Regions from separate parts of the Homo sapiens genome. Here all the other regions are linked to region 1. The links come from fine-mapping of genetic effects on gene expression. A gene starts in region 1. Each other region holds a variant in brackets. All regions are shown on one strand. Distances are from middle to middle.

The links. PIP is the estimated chance that this variant, and not a neighbour inherited with it, causes the effect.
Region 2: its variant is fine-mapped to the expression of SNPH in blood mononuclear cells (TOPMed, PIP above 0.99). The same link has a PIP of 0.9 or more in T cells.
Region 3: its variant is fine-mapped to the expression of SNPH in whole blood (INTERVAL, PIP above 0.99).
Region 4: its variant is fine-mapped to the expression of SNPH in whole blood (TOPMed, PIP above 0.99). The same link has a PIP of 0.9 or more in aorta, lung, sigmoid colon and visceral fat.

The regions. Positions count from the first base shown.
Region 1 is chr20:1,264,105-1,269,142 of GRCh38, forward strand. SNPH (syntaphilin) reads left to right here and starts at 2,190. Exons shown (of 7, transcript NM_001318234.2): 1 at 2,190-2,293; 2 at 2,550-2,656. RefSeq lists an enhancer at 1,876-2,025 and silencers at 2,426-2,505, 2,606-2,685.
Region 2 is chr20:1,284,373-1,289,410 of GRCh38, forward strand. All of the region lies in intron 2 of SNPH (syntaphilin), which reads left to right. Among named protein-coding and RNA genes, the nearest start is that of SNPH, 21 kb to the left of the region's middle. The variant T/G (reference allele first, on the strand shown) is at 2,463.
Region 3 is chr20:1,290,042-1,294,775 of GRCh38, forward strand. All of the region lies in intron 2 of SNPH (syntaphilin), which reads left to right. Among named protein-coding and RNA genes, the nearest start is that of SNPH, 26 kb to the left of the region's middle. The variant G/A (reference allele first, on the strand shown) is at 3,026.
Region 4 is chr20:1,298,095-1,303,132 of GRCh38, forward strand. SNPH (syntaphilin) reads left to right here. Exons shown (of 7, transcript NM_001318234.2): 6 at 2,468-2,617. Among named protein-coding and RNA genes, the nearest start is that of SDCBP2-AS1, 25 kb to the right of the region's middle. The variant G/A (reference allele first, on the strand shown) is at 1,942.

The DNA of each region.
Region 1 (5,038 bases):
CCCCACACACATACACACATGAGGATGGGACAGCCAGGCATGGTGGCTCAAGCCTGTAATCCCAGCACTTTGGGAGGCTGAGGATTGCTTAAGCCCAGGAGTTGGAGACCAGCCTGGGCGACATAGTAAAGCCCCATCTCTATTAATAAACAAAACAGCATGGGAACAGACAAAAAAATATTTTAATGACAATCTCAGAAATGTTCTCCTTCTAAACATGTAATAATTACATGGCTTCCTTTGGTTTCACTTTTAAGTGTAAAAATGTCACTTATATAATTTCAGTGAGCATTAGAGCAGATAAAACATTTTATCAATTAACTTGCTAATATAGCATTAGGTGTTTTGGACAGAAGACCTCAACATTTCACATGGCTTTTTCAACTAGTTTCCTATTCCTGCTAAATTGCTCTGCCATGTTTTTCTAGAAAACATAATATAATAATGGCTATCTGATAGGATATGGTTTAACGGAATACAGGAGAAAATAGAATCAATGTCCTCTCCAAAATTTATTAGCATTTGTTGCAAAAAAAGTAATGGATTTATTGCAGCTCAGAGATACAGGAAAAGATTTGACTGTGAAAAGCAACAGTAAACTTAAAATAATTATTTTTTCATGTACATTATCAATATTAACTGTTTCTCACCAGGCCAGTACTGCAGAGTCATGATGTAAATCAGTGAAGTCACTTTACAAATTCTTCTCTTGGAAAAGTCAGCTTGGGGCAGAGAGTAGAGGGTACCAAGTTCAGCACCGGCGAGAGTAAACAGACTTAAGGACTTAAGAGCCTTAAGAGACTTAAGACAAAAGGACTTCCAGGATGGCATCTGGCCTAGTGTTCCCATAGAAGACTGGGGCCTGGCACAATGTGTGCTTGCTTTCTCATTCACTTAGTCAATATTTATTGAGCTCCTACTATGTGTTAGGCACTGCTCTGGGCACTGGAAATACAGCAAGGGAAAAAAACAAAGTTCCTTCCCTCATGAAGTGTACATTCTAGTGGGAGTGATAAATGACACATAGTAAATATACACTATGTCAGCTGGTAATTAAGTGTAGCAAAACTAGGGGCAAAGGAGGTGGAGAGGAGGGAGTTAGTATTTTATGTAGAATGGTTAAGGAAGCCCTCTCTGAGACAGTAACATTTGAGCAGAGACCTGGAGGAAAGGAAGGATTGAACCATGTGGCTCTCTGGTGTGTTCTAGGCAAAGGGGACAGCAAATGCAAAGGCCCAGCAGTGAGGCCTCAGCAAGAAGGACAGCTTGATGGGAGAAAAGTGAGTGATGGGGAGAGCCACGCAAGATGAAGTCAGAGAGCTGGAGTAAGATGAGGGCATGTGGCGGAGAGCGATACAGAAAACCACTGGATGGTTTAGAGCAGAGTAATGACAGATCAGACAGGCCTGGTTCAGAAAGAAGGAGCCCATTCCCACTCCACCTACTTCCCACACATGAAGCAGATAAGAAACCAAGCCCAGAAAGTGAGTTAACTTATCTAAAGTTGTATGGCTAGAAATGGAAGGGCTAGGCAGAAAATCCAGTTTTTTGGACTTTTTGGTCTTCTTGTTTTCCCTGTGACAGATGGAAGACAGAGGGAAAAGAGCCACAATTAACATTTTAAGTTGTGATTGTTTATCTCTCCGAGATCTTTCCAATGATTCACCTTTTTACTACTTAAGAGGAAAACATTTCCATTTTCAGACACTTAAGATTCCTGCTATCATTGTTAGTAGCCCAAGTGCTTGTCATTCACATTAAATACCCCTGGTACTCAGACTTGGTTTGGGCAATGAAAAATGTTCCTAAAGGCTTTTAGATAAAAATTACTATTTCACTAGAGCCAACTATGTGCCAGGGAGTGAGACTGGTATCATCACCCCATGTTAGAGAAGAAAAAGCTGAGGCCCAGAGAGGTGAAGGGACTTGCACAGGGTCACACAGCCGACCAAGACGCTTTCCACCACGCCCAATCGATCGCCCAGCTCAAAATACCGGCTGGTGTGTAGGTGGGAGAGGCCGCCGCTCCCCGTGTGCTCGTTGTCTCTGTTCCCAGGCCCTCTAGAGCAAGATACTAACTATCTCTTTAAGAAGGAAAGTAAAGACGGGCCGCTTACGCAGCTGCCGGCGAGCCGCCGACTGGCTGGTCCCCTCCATCCACCTCACCCTCCCCGCCCCTCCCTCCCGGCAGCCCCAGCCCCGGCGAGCACCCAGCTAGCCGCCTCCTGCAGGGGCTCGGGAGAGCAATTCGGCGGCCCCTGCAGGGCAGCTGAAGCCATGGAAGCCTCCGCAGGTGATGACAAGGACCCCGGGGATCTCCGGGCCCACCGCCCAGCTGCACCCGCCGCAGTCCAGAGTGCCGAGTGCCAGGGGGTGGGGTGGGGGCCGCGGGCCGCGAGGAGGAGGGGACGGAGCACCCGGCAGGCAGCCTGCCCTCCAAGCCTTCTGGCTGCAGCGGCCCAGCTGTCAGCGGCCGGGGGCTCAGCTGCCTGGGTGTTCCCCGCCCGCGCTCACCCGCCCCGGTCTATCTCTTTTTCCTAACCCCGCAGGTCGCTGATCAGGGCCAGGCGGCTGCAGCAGCGACTGCAGAGGCGCTGCGCCAAGCCGGGCCGGAGTGGTGCGAGCCGGCGGGGCTGCGGAGGGCCAGTGGACTCAGGTGAGGAGGCCGCGGCGGAGCGGGGAGCTGGCCCTGCGCTGCACCGCGGCAGGTGGGGGCCGCTTGCAACCGCTCGCTGCGGTAGAATCCCTTGGAGGGCACCAGCCTAAGAGGGGTTAATCGTGACTCATTCTTACCCTCCCTTCATTCCCCTACATCCCTTTAAGCGCTTCCCTCCCTCCCCCTCCCTGAAATGTAAGAATTAGAGGGTGCTGATTGCAGCAGAGAAGATGCCCAAAGTGGGTGATTAGGAGGCTTTTAGGGAACCCACCCCCCAATTTTATTTGTCTTCCCCTTCTGGCATTTGGCAAACATTTAAGCTTCTCTTTTCCTTCTTGGAGGAGGAGCAGGGGTACCTGGGGGTGGGAGAAGGATGAGACCCCACCCCCACCCCAAGGTCAAGTGCCAATGACTGCTTCCATCCCATCTTTCCCTCTGAGAAGCATCAGGGCCCTGCAGTAGATCTGGGGAAAAAATGCCCATAAGTCCTAGAGTGGACGATCTGAGCCTCCGTCTCCCCGGAGCTTCCCTGGGATGTGAAGCCTTCCACTCCCCAGCCGGGATCTGGGCTGTTTGCAACACCTACTAGCCTGGGGAGCCCCATATTCCCTTCCCCAACCCTGCAGACTGAAAGAGAGGCCGGTCACATGCTGCCCGTTTCCTCTGCCTTCTCTGCCCATCTGGTGGTGTCGGGATGGGCTGGAGGAGCTTCTTAGAAAAAGGTGATCTCTGCAGGCAGAGTCGTGTAAGGAAAGTGCCAGAGATTGGGGTTCTAGGCCCTTAACTTGCTAGTTGGCCACAAGTAGCCATTTTAAAATTCTCTAGGCGTGGGTGTCTGTCTGCTCATCTGTTAGATGCAGGAATTGGATTAAATGATGTGTATAATTTTAGTATATCACTCAAGCAGCTTTTACATGTCAGGGGGACCCCTCTGCTAAGGCAATTTAAATTTAGTTTCATGAAATAATTGGGGTTTCCTCAGTTGATCTCTTTCAACTCTGACTTCTTAAGTGAAACATTGACCTTGTGGGCCTCAAGGAGCTGGAGGTGCCAGACAGTCCTATGTTGACATCCCTGAGCTGCCAAGTGACTTCCCTTCCCCCAGCCTCAGTTTCTCCATCTGTAAATCTAGGGGTACAGCCCGCAGAGGGCTGATGTGAAAATTAAATGAGATGTATGTGGAAGCACCTAAAATAGTGCCTGTGCCTGGCACATAGTAGGTTCTCAGGAACTCAGGACTTGGGAGATAGGCTGGGGGAAGAGAGGAAGAGGTGACTGCTTTTAGTCCTGTTCTCCTCCCCATCCCCTGCCTGTCTCTTCCACACCCCTGCAGATGGTGTCCCTGCCAGGGGTAATGAATGCTGAAGTGTATTGGGTCACCAGGCTGAGGGCCTAGGCAGGCAGCAACATTTCCACTGCAAAGGTTGTGACATCATTCTAGCAAATGATGGTCCCAAGGAGGACTGTAGCCCAGCATTGGGTTTGGAAAATCCTGGCATCCAAGGGCGGAGTCTCTGAGGGAACAGAAGCAGCAGATTCTTGTGTGCTGGCAGCAGGGCAGGGATCAGGTCTTCCGGATCTCACATGAATCCCACTGTGGCTCTCTTGCCCTCCCTGGAGTGTCTCCCTAGAGTCACCCTGAGGCCAGGCAGTCAAGTTTTTGGTGCTTGTATTTTCGATTCTTTATCTTCCTTCCTGCTGTCATTTTCAGCCTAGCACTCAAGCCTTTCTCGCTCCTCTTTATTCCAGATACCTCCTGCCTTTTGACAGCATGATAAAGGAGGTTCTCCATAGGGTTGGGTGGGGAATTTTGCTGCTGCACCATTTGGGCCAAAAGAAGTTGTCATGTCCCCCCACCCCCACCCTAAATTCCTATTTGGCAGAGGCCCTATCATTTTCCTTTCTCTATCTCCAGCCTCTGGCCCATGAGTAGGCCCAAAGTAGGTGCTCCGTAAGTGTTGAATGAAACAAACTTGAGGAAATTATGTCCCTAAGCCAACTAGGTTAGGGAGAAACTGTAGGAATGTGTTGATTATGTAGGTGAAAGCCCTTTTTAGTGTAGGACATCGTCCAGGTTGTTGGTTGTCATTATTATTGCTATTACAGCTACTGTTATTATTGCTATTGTTGGTGATTAACAGATGCTTCGCCTACTCCTCTAGGGCTCCTGACTAGACCAAAAGGGGCCAGATGTGCCTGGGAGGGTGGTGATGTTGGCAAAAAGGGATCCAGATGGTGCCAGCTGGTGTGAGATGACTGTGAAGGGAGGAGGATTGGGAAGGGAATGATTCTAGCCATTTTCTGTGTTTGAGGGAGGAGAGCAGGTAATTAGAATCAAGTGGGACAACATGGATATGCAGTAGAAAGTCAGGAGACCCAGGT
Region 2 (5,038 bases), 20 kb after region 1:
CTGTGGTGGCCTGACACTAGTCTAGGCATAAGGGACTAAATAAAGCATAAAATGGGCATCCATCCTTACCTCTCTGGAGCTTATATTCTAAAGACATAAAATAAATACATACATAAATATGTTAGCTGTTGCTAAGGACGGTGGAGAAAAACGAAGCATGGGAAGAAAGAGGAGTGCTGTAGGAGGAGGGGTTGTATTTTAAACACAGTGGTCAGAGAAGATTCACTGAGAGGGTGACCTTGGAGCAAAGACCTGAAGCAGGAGAGAGAATACACGGGGCAGAGATCTGGGAGAAGAGCATTCCAGGCAGAAGGAACAGCATGTGCAGAGGCCCTGATGAGGGGATGTGCAAGAAGGCAGGGTGGCTAGAGCAGAGTGAATGAGGGGGAGAGGTGATGAGGTCAAAGAGATAAGCGGGGGTCAGGGGAGGGATGCACAGAACTTTACATCAGCCGAAGAAAAGGCTTTAGCCTCTATTGAAAGGAAGGACCGTTGGAGGGGTTTTGAGTAGAGGAATGACCTGATCCAATTTGTGTTCTAAAAGGATCCCTTTGGCTGCTGGGCAGAGTTTGTAGGAGATAATGAGACCTGCATCATCCAGGAGAGAGATGGTGGCTTGGACCAGGGATGGAGCAGTGAAGATGCCGAAAGGTGTCAGATTCTGTGACTGTGTCGCCTCAGTTTCCTTATCTGTAAAATGCATACACTGTGCAGGGAATAAAAGCTGACAGGCTTTTCTGATAGACGTGAGAGTGTTGGCCTACCCGACTGGAATGATGGGATTGCCATTAACTGAAATGAGGGAAGCTGCAGAAAAACAGATTTTTAAGGCAAAATCAGAAATTCATATTTTGGATGTGTTAATTTTGAGATACTCTGTTAGACCAAAGTGGCGGTGTCCTGAAATCCTGTTGTTTGGTAGACAATGACCGGTTTAGGGTTTTTCTTTCCTTTTCTTTTTTTGCAAGTAGACTTAAGAAAGCATAAAATGAATCTGTAGTCAGGAACCTCTCAGATACAAACGAGTATAGTATTTCAGATTAAGATTTTGGACAGGGAGAAAGATGTAATATACATGAATAACATTGAGAATAAGAATATATTCAGGCGAATAAATAATTACTGCTATTTACGGAGTGCTGTCCCTATGCCAGGTCCTTGCTAGGCATTTCACACGTGTTATTGCTCATTGTGATTATACTCATGCACAACTGTAATTAGCCCCATTTGAGAGATAAGGAGAATGAGGCTTAGAGGAGTAAAGTGGCATTCCCACTGTCATAAAGATGGTGGGTGGTGGAGTTTGGAATTCAGAGTTCCAAATCCAGTCATATTGGATCTAAAATTCAGTTACATTTGATGTTCAAGCCGTGGTTTCTTTCTGTCGGGTTAGTCTGCCTGTCAGCAAAAGGGGAAAACTCGTTCTGAGATAGATAAAGGGTGGCCGGGTGCAGTGGCTCATGCCTGTAATCCCAGCACTTTGGGAGGCCAAGGCAGGTGGATCACAAGGTCAGGAGTTTGAGACCATCCTGGCCAATATGGTGAAACCCCGTCTCTACTAAAAATACAAAAATTAGCCAGGGGTGGTGGCAGGCACCTGTAGTCCCAGCTACTGGCTGAGGCAGGAGAATTGCTTGAACCCTGGAGGCGGAGGTTGCAGTGAGCCGAGATTGCGCCACTGCACTCTAGCCTGAGCGACAGAGCGAGACTCCATCTTAAAAAAAAAAAAAAAAAAAAAAAAGATAAAGGGCCTTTAAAATAGGACATAGTAGTTTGTAGAATCTCCCTTTTAAAACATTTTAGAATGCTTCACTTTGGCTAAATTAAGAGGTAGGGCAGCTTCTCCAGAGAAGGAAAACTTATTAGGAGAGGCATTTATTAATCACCCACCCTCTTCCAGCAAGTGTGAGCCACACTGGGCATTGTTGAGGCCCTGGATCTTATTGAAGGTGAAAGAATTCAGCATGGCATGGGAAGTACCACGGGGAATCAGGTGGACAGGGATCAGCTGCTGAGGACAGCAGGGCAGCTGCAGCTGGAGAGGGAGAAGGGAGCTGGGAGGAGAGATGAAGGAGCTGCTGTGAGATAGGCTCCTGGGCTAAAACAGGCACAGTTGGGTGCGCTGGGCTCCATGTCTCCCTGCTGAGCCCCTGGGAGCTGCAGGAAGATAGATGAACCTTGGCTTCCAACAGGAGCGGCATGCCTGGAACTGTTGGTGGGATTAGAATGAGCTGGCCCTGCTTCTATGGCTCCATTGTGGCCTTTGGCAAGTCTTCACTTTTCTATCTAGAAAATGTGGCAGTTGGGACTCGATTGTCATGAAATGCCAGGAGAGCAAGAGAGAGTGTGTGTGCACAAGTGACAGGGAGAGAATGCAAGTGCAAGAGACAGCGTGAGTGGTTTTATGTGGTTTCTTGTTTTGTATTACCAGGAACGAGGAAGCTCTCTGATCTCAGGCTGGG[T/G]GGGGGCTTTGTCTGTGGAAAGGGGCTGTCGTCGCAGGCAGAGCAGATGACATCTCCACATCCCTTTAGTCCTTTGGTCTGTGTGTTCCATGTGTTCTTCAGTCTGACATGAGCAAAGCACAGCACACACAGGGCAACTTTGGGGAGCTCTGAGGGCACCATCTTTCCTTGGGACCCACTTTGCCGACTCCCAGTGGACCATCATCTTGCCCTGCAGCCAACCCCATGCAAAAGTGTTCCTTTTAACATTCCTTTTAGGGAGATCTTTATTTCTCCCAAAGAACCAATTTTCTTCCTGCCCTCCCATAACCATGAGAACAATAAGACTGAGCATACTTTCCCTTTTGGCATCAGTGGCCAGGAAGCTTGGAATTGAATCTCAATGTCATTATTGCCACCATGTATTTGTGGTCAGCATGGATATTCCCTTCTTCCCTGGGCCTCTGTTTCAATGCATATTTTATTGCATGTCATTTATGAGCTGCCTTAAAATGGTCAGGACTTCTCCTGTCATACCCGTAGGCCTTCCTTCCAAGATTTCTTTACTTGAAAAGGTTCCCTTTGTTCTTTTTTTTTTCTTAATTTTTGCCCTGGTGAGGGCAAGGGTTGTGGTACAGAAGCTTCACTGATAGATTCAGGAGTCTAGCCCCAAGCCCAGGCTCTGTCCCTGACTTTCTGGGTAACCTCAGGCAACTAACATGCTTTTTCTGGGTTTCAGTTTCTTTCTCTATAGAATGATAGGTTGTGATGAGGTCTACTCCAGATCCTTTCCATTCTGATTCTGAGAGTGTGTTAGTCCCTGTTGGTACCTGGGGTAAATGCCAGGGGATTAGGCATTTACCTAATCTTACATCCAGGATCCAAAGAATCAAGGCAGAAATCTGGAAAAAATGAGAATTTTTAGGGATGGAAGTCTCACCATTTTCCTCATCCTGTGATGCTTTAGAGTTGGAAGCTTGGGAGAAGGGGGAAGGGAGAGAAGCCGGACTGAGGCTTGACAGCTCTATCAGTCAGGAAGCCCAGGGAAGCATATGCTGTGGCCAAGGTTGCTGAAGGGCCTCCATCTGCCAGGAGCCACTAGCCAGGCAGCCACCAAGCTGGGGCTGGCACCACTGCCCCTCCGTTCCTCACATTTCTCCATGGGTGTCTGCAGAGGGGCAGCCGTGGAGCAGCTGGGATGGTGGAAGCATGGGAACCAGTGTTCCCCCTACTACTCCCTACCCAGACGGGAGGCCTGCCAGACATTGCCCTGGAAAGCCAGCCCAGGTCACTTGGCCTAGCAGAGTTTGCCAGTCATTTCAGAGTCACTCATGCCTGGGCCTGCTGATGTCCGCTGAGGTGATAAAGCAAGAATTATTTCTGAAGAAGGGAAAAAGAGAGATCTCCTTCGACAGGTAATAGTGATAGCAAGAAATGTTCAGTCCTCTAATTTCCCAAGAACTACCCCCATCCCTCCATTCATTACCTTGGTTGGATCCCAAAGAGACAGCAGGGCCAGGAAGGTGGCGCCTTCCTGAGTGAATGCATGAGACAGCTGAGACGAACAGAGGTCAAAGACCCAAGGTCACCAAGATGGACGATGTGATATGGCTCAGAGGAGCTGAGGGTCTCTCAGTGGTGGGCTTGCACAGCAGCTGGGCTGCTGGGTGGGACGCAGCAGTTGTTGGAAGAGGAAAGAGCAGTGCTCCTCATGGAAAGGGCTTCTCCTTTGCCTGCGAGGCTGATTCTTAGAGGAACAGGGAAAGTCACTAGTTAGGGAGAAGGCACATGAGGAATTTCTTTTTCTTTTTTTCTTTTTTTTTTTGAGATGGAGTCTCCACTCTGTCGCCCAGGCTGGAGTGCAATGTCGTGATCTCGGCTGACTACAACCTCTGCCTCCCAGGCTCAAGATATTCTCCTGTCTCAGCATCCCGAGTAACTGAGATTACAGGCACCCACCACCTCGTCCAGCTAATTTTTCTATTTTTAATAGAGACAGGTTTTTGCCATGTTGGCCAGGCTGGTCTTGAAATCCTGACCTCAGGTGATCCGCCCACCTCGGCCTCCCAAAGTGCTGGGATTACAGGTGTGAGCCACCGTGTCTGGCCAAGAATTTCTTTTTAAACGACTCTCTGTAGTATGCTTACCTCTTATGTCTGTGATGCCCTGCTTTTATGGAAGTATGACCAGCCCAAAATGCAGGTATATACCTGCTCATCTCCATTGTGGTATCTTAGAGTCTCATGGAAAAGTAGGTTTTTTCTTTTATGCAGCAGAATGATAAGTGTCCCAGGTCTACTGTATTATGAGACCTTCATGATGCAGTAGAAATGCAGGTGCCCATGACCTGGAAATCCAGGGTCCAGCCCTTGGTGACTCTTGTAACCTCTGAGGCTTCAGGTTTCCCATAGATCAGATGGACTAGTCTCTACCTGGCCTCCCTCTATGGGGAATTTGTGTGAGGATTCAACGAAGTTGTGAATATGCAAGAGCTTTAGGGGCAGCCTCAGCTACCAGTCTCCTCCAGGCTGACCCAAAGTCTAGGGAAGCATCCTGGGCCCAGCTACCTGAAGTCAGGTAGAGGGGGGGCACTGGCT
Region 3 (4,734 bases), 26 kb after region 1:
CTCTACTAAAATATACAAAAATTAGCCAGGTGTGGTTGTGCGTGCCTGTAATCCCAGCTACTCGATAGGGTGAGTCATGAGAATCACTTGAACCCGGGAGGCGGAGGTTGCAGTGAGCTGAGATCGTGCCACTGCACTCTAGCCTGGGCGACACAGTGAGACTCTGTCTCAAAAAAAAAAAAATTAAGTTTTTAAAATGTACAATTCAGGGATTTTAGGATACTCACAAAATTATATAACCATCACCACTAGCTACTTCTAAAACGTTTTTTATCTTCCCAAAAAAGAAACTCCATTCCCATTACCAGTCATTCCCTGTTCCTTCTTCCCTTCCAGTGTGTTTTCTGTCTGTGTGCATTTGCCTGTGCTGGATATTTCATATAAATGGAATCATGCAATATGCGGCCTTTCGTATCTGGCTTCTTTCATTTAGCATAATGTTGTCAAGGTTCATCTGTGTTGTAGCATGGATCAGTAATACTTCATTCCTTTTATAGCTAAATATTCCATTGCATAGACGCATCACATTTTGTTTATCCATTCTTCTATTGGTGGACATTTGGGTTATTTCCACCTCTTAGCTATTAAGAATAGTGCTACTGTGAAGTACACTTCTTATACAAGTTTTTGTTTGAGCATCTATTTTCCATTCTTTGGGGTATATACCTAGCAGTGGAATTGCTGGTTCTTATGGCAATTCTATGTTTAACTTTTCGAGGAACCACCAAACTGTTTTCCATAGCAGCAGCGTCATTTTACATCCCCACCAGCAATACATGAGAGTTCCAACTTCTCCACATCCTTGACAACGCTTGTTATTGTCCATCTTTTTTATGCTAGCCATCCTAGTGAATGTGAAACAATATCTCATTGTGGAAAATAAGTATTCCATAGATTTTTAACCTGAAAAATCCTTTTTAAAAAGTAGTCTTACTTCACACCTTCCATATGTAAAACACATACGAGAGGAGCCTCTTCAGGTGAAATGGGGGAGGAGGCCCAAGCCACCCCTCCCAGTAGGTGCAGAGGCAAGTCCTCTTGGGTGGTTTGAAGACCTAGGCTTGATGCCCTTCAGCTCTGGAATCTGAGTCTAATCACTGGAGACACATCCTGTGTAGCAGCTGCCTCAGCCCTCAACCTATGCTGGTTGCCTGGGGAAGCTTCTCACAGCATTTGGCCAAGTTGTGGGTCTGCCTTGCCGCTGTGTTGGGGTTGCCACAACAGTGAGAAGAAGTCGGATGGCGCCTCATGTGTGGTCCCAGCTTTGAGGGTGGCTTGTGTGGGAAACAGGAAGCAAGCTGGAGAAATGCCAGCAAGTCCTGGAAGGAAGATCCTAGGTTTTGTTGACAAAGGAGGAGCAGAGGCACATAGTGGCTGATGAGGCCATAGCCAGTGCAGGGTTTACTGAACTCCTCAGCTGTGAATAGCCCTGGTAGTGCTAATCTTCTGAGATCTAGAGTGTGGCTGCTGGAACACTCCCAGGCCTGTCTTCTATTCCCACCTCTCTGCATTAGCATTCTAGGAGCACCAGGCACTCTGCTGTCTGATGGGTGGAATGTTCTGCGTTCTAGTGTTACCTTGGCAAAGAGAGGATCCCTCCCAAGTTCTGCTCTGTTGATTGCAATGCTCTGCTTTCCACAGCTGTCAGTGGTTTGAGTCATCAGACACAGATTGTTCTGTTCCCTCGGATTTTAGGATAGCTTTCTTCTTGTATCAATGGCTAATTCTTTGAAAGAAGATAAATTATAGTACATACAGGGACTTTTGCTTAGCTGGAATATTAGATTAACCCAAGCACCTGGTTTTTCCCCCATGACTGTTGATTGGGGAAAATGCTATCATGTCTCTTTGAAGAATGGAGCTTCCTAATTTTACATATGTGGAAACTGAGACCCGAAAGTCCTAGTAATGAAGGAGAAAGAAGCATCAATTAGAAGCCCATAATTTCATTGACAGCTCTAGAATTAGAGAATGTTAGATCCAGAGCACCTTAGAGACCATCTAATCTGACTCTTTGGTCTATTCAATGTGCTTGTTTAAACCATTGTATTACCAACAGTTGTGTGTTGATTGTGTTTGTTTTTATGAAGTTTCCCAGGGGATGGTGTTCCCTGAGTTTTAGTCTAAGGCATAGCATCCTAAGTGGTCAAGACAGTAAGTGATAGGAGAAGTCACTGGTGGAAAGGCTGTGGGTGGGACCTAAAGAAAGAGTGCAATGTATGCCTGAGGACAGGCAGGGAAGATGCTGCAGATGGGACAAACAGCCCATGTAGAGATGCAGATTTGGGAGTGACTAGCCGAGGTCTCCTGGATGTATCAGAGAGCCAGTTGGAAAGGTTGTAGATGAGAGGGCCTTAAGCACCCACATCAAGAGCTTTGCTCTGATTTTTACCTAATCTGGGACTTCCAAGGAATTTTGAACAGGGTCCAGGCCCTTTTCTCCATTGTTCCTGCCATGACCCTGGCCCAGGCCCTCCTAATTTCTCCCCTGGTTGGTAACCTCCTAACTGGTATCTGGTATCCCTCCCTCTCCACACAGGCTCCTTATCAGGAACTTTCTAAAATGCAAATATGATTGTGCCCCTTTCCTATAAAGCACTTGCATGGCTTCCTGTTGCCCACAGGACAAGATCCTGGCTTAAGTGGCTCTGTGTGGCCTGCCCCCCTCCTTCTGCAGCCTCACTCCCACTGTACTTCTGCCCTCAACAGGCTCCCTAGTTTCTGAGCAGCCAGCTGTCACTCACTGCCTGTGTCCAGACTTCTCCTTCCCTCCCATTTTCTGCTGCCACCTGGTGAACTCTTATTCATCCCTCAAGACCCAGTGCAAATTTCTTGTGTAGAGAAGCGTTCCTGGATCCTCCTGAAGACACTATTATGGCTTGAATGTGTTTCTGTTTTGAAGCTCACTTCATGTTACTTCCAAAATACTGGCTGCCCCCATGTTTTAGTGTTTATTGTGTGATAGGCACTGACCTAAGCCCCATACTCACATTATTTTATGTTATTCTCACAGTAACCATATGAG[G/A]TGCATTCATTAGAGCCCCAGTTATTACAGATATGGGCAGTGAGGCTCAGAGAAGTGGGTGACTTGCCCAAGGCATGCAGCTGAAGGGTGCCAGAGCTGGCATTTGAGCCCAGATCAGTTCATATTGACTTCTGCAGTCATTAGTCTCATGCTCCCTGGACCCCCATTGTCGGGGGGGTTAGGAAGTGTTGAGCATTTGAGGGAGCAGTCAAAGGAGTGGATGCAGCAGGGTTGCTATGGTGTGGACAAGATGGGGAAGTGGAGGGAAGTTCAGTGAGGGCAGGGGCTGGGTTTACTCTGGGGTTAAAGTGATGAGAGACTATCAGCCCAGCTTCCCACAGTTAAGGGTTTTCTTTCTACCTTCCTTTCCAAGTGGCAGCCTCTGGCCACCTGGGGAGAGGCCTGCGGGACTCCAGGCTAAGCAGGTGGCATGGTGACAAACACCATGGCAACCTGCCTCCTTGCTAGGGCCTAGAAGGGAGGGAGGACCTGAGAGAGCACAGGATGCACACTGAGTTTTCTGAGTAGGATCCTGAGAGGTGGCTCCCTTTGGGCCTGGGTGGCTTCTGCCCTCCCATGAGGGACCCTGCCTGCAAGGTCCCATCCCAGCAGGGGAAATGCGTCTTCCACCTTTGTCCCTAATGAATACCTGGCTCTGGGTGCCCAGGAGACTGTTAGCTATACGCAGGTACAAGTGCCACCCCCTTCCCTCCCCCAGGCCAGGGAGGAAGGAAGAGGGAACTCAAGAGGAGGCAGGTGTGGGGTAGCCAAGCAAGATAGTGGCAGGGACAGCTGGGACAAGGCCCTCATTGTAGCAAGGCCACACGCAGCTCCAAGACAAACCAGGCATTTTGCCTGCCTCCCAGGACTGGGCCTAGCACTCTGCCTGGACTTTCCTGGCTCCTTAGAACACTCACTCACACTGGCTTGGAAGAGCCCATCCTCAGATCTGAGTCCTGCCTCTGCTGGAAAGTCCTCCTGAAGGCTCAGCCTCCTTTTTGCATCCTCCCAAAAGCCAGAAGGGCAGGGATGATGGTGGGAAAGTTGTTGGTGAAGCCAGGCCGACCTGGGCCAGAAGCCAGAGCATGTCACACCTGCAGCTGTGTGACCTTGGGCCCAAATGCAGTAACAAAGCCGGCCTTGAAGGATTGCTGCTTCAAGTAATGGGCCAAGGCAGACGAGAGCACTCAGCATGGCCACCTTACCACTGAAGGATTCAGGCAATGGCAGGTGATCCTTGGAGCCCTTGCCCATGTGCCCCTCTGCACCCTAAGCTGTTCCTGGTCAAGATCCTCCTGTGCCCAGGAGGCAGTGAGCCATTTATGGCCATCCTCACAAGCATGGAGGAGCACTGATGTCCTCTTACCCCCAAATCGCCCCTCCTCCATGGTTCCTGCTCTAGGGGCCAGCCCTACAGTTCCAGGAGGCCCTGCCTGGGTGACTGGGGCATAATGAGTGGGAAGCATTGCCAAGCTGGGGCAAGAAGCTCAGGTGACAGGTGTGGTGTCGGCAGGTCCTGCAGCCCAGCACCCGACACCTCCAGGCAGACAATGCTGGCTGTGTCCAGACCCTCCAGGGGAACAGGCTGTGTTCTATGTCCCCGCCAGGAAACAGGCCATCTGAGTAGTGCCTTTGTCCACTCAGGAGGCAGCCCCGCCGCTGGCTGGGATGACCAGGCTCCGGGGAGGCCCTGACATGGGAAGGGGGTG
Region 4 (5,038 bases), 34 kb after region 1:
CAGCATTGAAATACAAGTGGGAGGTTGGGGCGTGTAGGGAACGAGCATAGGCTCTGGATTTGGTCTCTTCCTGTCTTGAGCCTCCATTTCCTTTCTTTAAAGTGGAGCTAATAACTCGGAAGCTTCGGTGACTTGATATCTACACACCGCCTGTGCATCCTAGTTGGCCAATAACTGATACCTCCTGTTGTTAGAGCTTTGATCTGACTTAAGGCCAGGAGATGCCCAGCCTGTGGCTCCCATGGCTGGAGCACCTCCTGGGAGGACTCAGTGGAGAGGATGTCATTTGTGTGAAGCGATGTCCAGAGCCACTGAAACAGCAGCTGTTAGATTTCTATCGTGACACACATGATGGGTAACACCCATGTGCAGGACTCATGCCCCAGCATCCTGGCTGTAACACCACCCCAGAGACTGGGGGACATAGGAGTAAAGCATTAATTTACATTTTGAAAACTATATAATTGGCAACTTTAATCTTTTCTATTAGTAACAGATTTTGTAACACACCTCGTAACTGCAGCCCATGGAGGTGATCCCAACCCCAGGGCTGAGAATTGCTCCCAGCAAAGGGTCTTCTTCCCCACAACAAGGGTTGCTGCCCCTGGGTGAGCAGTGGGGCCACAGTTAGGTCCCCTCTGCAAATAGCCAGGCTTTCCAAGGCAGGAACAGCTGAGAAACATGCGTCACAGCGTATTTTTTTTCTAATTTGTGTGTGTGTGTGTGTGTGTGTGTGTGTGTGTGTGTGTGTATACATATTTTTTTTTTTACAAAGAGCTAGTGACTAAAAATGTACACGTGTTAAATTTTATATCGGGGAAAATATTCATGAAAGCAAAATGAAAAGAATGTAAAATAGTTACTTCCTCTCTAATCCTCAATCCTTACTAGTTTAGCTAACCTTGGGTCCCCCACTCCTACCACCCCTTGCCAAGGGGTGACTCCTCCGCCCCTTGCCAAGCAGAGAGGAGACCTGCGTGACTTGGCTTGAGTTGACCTAGGGGCCATGACGTGAGTACATAGAAGAAAACCACTTCTCATTCCACTTCTATCACCACTTTCTCTTTGACAGTTTACGACTTACAAGTACTTTTTCCTCGGTAAACACCATACAGCTTCCATGGAACTTTTAAAATTGCCTCCAGCTCGGCTGCTTCAGCAAATGGGCCTCACCAGGGCCTGCCTTTTCCAGGCTCATAAAGGGACATTGCCCCTCCCTAGACCTGCCAGTCACTCTCCCCTCAAGGAGCAGAGTTGGATGGCAACAAGGCCTGAGTCTCTAGTCGCGAGATACATGCCCAGGTTTTAAGCCAAGATCCAAGGTTTCTGTTTGAGCAAAACAACCAGCAGCCAGGACACTGAGAATAGAGCTGGCTGGGCCATAGTCTGTTGTGGAATTGGGGCATTCTCCTTCCCCGTGAAAGCCTGGCCCTCCCTCCTCCACTGGCACCTGACTGCCCTCTGGGTGGAAATTCCTTCTCCTTTGCCCTGGTAGGGCACCATGTCAGTGCCGCCCTGTGCTGGGAGCAGTGCACTTCCAGCCTGCTGCCACCCCAGAGTACTGCAGTGGACAGGTCCCTGCCCAGAGCCGGCAGGTGTTCACGTGTGTGCTCCCATGTGCCCCCGGAGGTGAAAGTGTGAACATGTGCCTGGGCTGGTGCCCTAGTATGTGTGAGTACCTGCGAGGCACAAGTGTGTCTCCATGTATGTGGGCATGCAGGTGTGAATGGACTGGGAATTGACATCCCAGGAAGTGTGCGTGCATGTAGTGCTCACCCACGTGTACGCAGTGGGGGTGAGGAGTGAGAGTGCCAGGGCGTATATGGAGACAGCTGTGCCTGCGCGTGTCTGCCCTCCCTGTCCCCAGGCTGTGAGGGGTCTCAGCTCTAGAGAGGAGAGCTTCTGCCTCCACCTGGGAGATGTATCCTGCTGTGTGGGGGT[G/A]AGTCCTTGTCTGCCATGCAGACCCAGCATCTGCCACTTACACCTCAGTTTCCAGCCTTCAAACTCATTCTCCAGGTTGGAAGACGAGGTACCTGGGTTCTGGGGCACACTACCGGGATTGTCTGAGGGGCTCGGGGCAAGAGCTAACCTCTCTGAGGCCAGCGGCCCCTCTAAAAGATGAAGACAGTCCCTACTTCAGGGCTGCTATAAGGATTGATGGCGTTGGTCAAGTGCTTGGCCTGGTTCCAGGTTTACACATATGCTCTGGGATATATCTCCCCACCCAGCCCTAACTAGAGGAGCCCTGAAGCCCGCTTCCTGACATGATGGTCTTCACTTAGAGGAACTCTACTAAAACCCACCTTCCAGAAGGCTGGGGGTTCTCCTGCCTTGTGTGGGAGGCCTGGCTTGGAGCATCTGGTGGCCAGGGATGGTGAGGCTGGTGTCCCCTTGCTCCCCAGAGGTAAAGCACCTGTGCCTTGCCTGACCTCTTCCTCCCTCCCTGATGATGGGCGTCCCCTTGCAGGCGCTCCATGAAATACACGCTGTGCAGTGACAACCATGGCATCAAGCCCCCGACCCCGGAGCAGTACCTGACCCCCCTGCAGCAGAAGGAGGTGTGCATCCGGCACCTGAAAGCCCGGCTGAAGGACACACAGGACCGGCTCCAGGACCGGTGAGCGGGTGGCCACGAGCAGCCCTGGGGGTACCCCACCAGCTCCACACTCAGGGAAACCAGGGCTCTGGGGTGCCTCTTGGAGGGAGGAGTGGCTGGGGGTCTCCCAGCATCCGTCTGCTCTCTCCTTCCCAGCAAAGCCTCATTTGAGCCCACTTGCAGACCCTCATCCCCAGCAGCTACTCACCTTGACTGCTCCACGAGGCTGTTGGGGGCCAGGCGGGAGCAGTTTCCCATGAGGGCCTGTCCTGTGGGGCCTCCTGCCTGTGCTGTCCTTTCCCAGCTTCAGCCTGGCAGCTCCTTTGGCTGCTTCTTTTCCTCTGGCTCCCATCTTCCAGGAGTTGGAGCACAGGGCTTCTTTCTGACTTACTTGCCTCTTTTGGGGGAGAAACAACTCTTTATCCTTCCTCGCTTCCTCCTGAGTGAGTCACCAGAGGGCTTGTGGCCAACCTCGACTTCAGGCCCCAGAAGCCATCTACTTCCTGCTGTGGAGGATGATGATGAGAAGCCTTTTGCTGAGCTCCTCCCCAGCCCAGGTGTCTCCCAGGAGCCCCCGCAGGCCGTCTGAGCTCATTCTCAAGTGCTTAATCCCAACCCTCCCAGCTTCTACCCTCCAAGCCCAGTGGCTTCATCTTTGTGATCTACACTTCAGGGCGTCGATCTCCCATTGTCTTAACTATCCTTCTCGGGACTGTGTCTATGCAAACATGCAGCCTATTGTGAGCTGGCCAAGGTGCTGTGTGGGGCTGGAGCTCAGAGCAGGCACGATGATCGCTCCTTTTTTCTTTTCTTTCTTTTTTTTTTTTAATACAGCAGCTTTATTGCAATGTAACTTACATACCATATAATTCACCTATCAAAAGTGTACAATTAGATGATTGTTAGTTTAGTCACAGAATTTTGCAACCATTACCACTATCTAATTTCATAAATATTTCTATCACCTCAAAATAAACCCCATTCCCATTAGCAATCACCGCCAATTTCTAATTTCATCAATATTTCTATCACCTCAAAATAAACCCCATTCCCATTAGCAATCACCGCCAATTTCTAATTTCATCAATATTTCTATCACCTCAAAATAAACCCCATTCCCATTAGCAATCACCGCCAATTTCTAATTTCATCAATATTTCTATCACCTCAAAATAAACCCCATTCCCATTAGCAATCACCGCCAATTTCTAATTTCATCAATATTTCTATCACCTCAAAATAAACCCCATTCCCATTAGCAATCACCGCCAATTTCTAATTTCATCAATATTTCTATCACCTCAAAATAAACCCCATTCCCATTAGCAATCACCGCCAATTTCTAATTTCATCAATATTTCTATCACCTCAAAATAAACCCCATTCCCATTAGCAATCACCGCCAATTTCTAATTTCATCAATATTTCTATCACCTCAAAATAAACCCCATTCCCATTAGCAATCACCGCCAGTTTCTAATTTCATCAATATTTCTATCACCTCAAAATAAACCCCATTCCCATTAGCAATCACCGCCAGTTTCTAATTTCATCAATATTTCTATCACCTCAAAATAAACCCCATTCCCATTAGCAATCACCGCCAATTTCTAATTTCATCAATATTTCTATCACCTCAAAATAAACCCCATTCCCATTAGCAATCACCGCCAGTTTCTAATTTCATCAATATTTCTATCACCTCAAAATAAACCCCATTCCCATTAGCAATCACCGCCAATTTCTAATTTCATCAATATTTCTATCACCTCAAAATAAACCCCATTCCCATTAGCAATCACCGCCAATTTCTAATTTCATCAATATTTCTATCACCTCAAAATAAACCCCATTCCCATTAGCAATCACCGCCAATTTCTAATTTCATCAATATTTCTATCACCTCAAAATAAACCCCATTCCCATTAGCAATCACCGCCAGTTTCTCTCCAACCACCATAGTCCCTGGCAACCACTGATTTTTCTGTCTCTATGGATTTGTCTATTCTGGACATTTCATATAAATGGGATCACGCTGTATGCATGACCACATCGTTCTTGACCACAGCTCTGCCAAGCAGCCAATCCGGTTTGGATTTGTTGTGGTTTTAAACTACAGGCGGTTACGGGTAGCATTCAGCGAGCTTCATTGTCGGCAGAGGGAGGATTTCTATTTTTATTTTCCCTCATCTTCCCAATGATGCCCAGGATCTGCGTGGCCTTTTGCACTAATGCCTCAGGGAGCAGATGGCCCATCTCCCAGCTTCATTTCTAGGGCCAGCCCCATGGCTTAGAGCAGACCATCTGCCCTGTGTGGTTTGGGCAGGATGCCCTGGTGTAGGTGTGCTAACACCTTGACTCCCTGGTCACTGTCTGCCTGTTACTCCCACAGGAACCCATTGCAGGTCTTTACATGAAATACTGTCACTCTCCCCACACTCT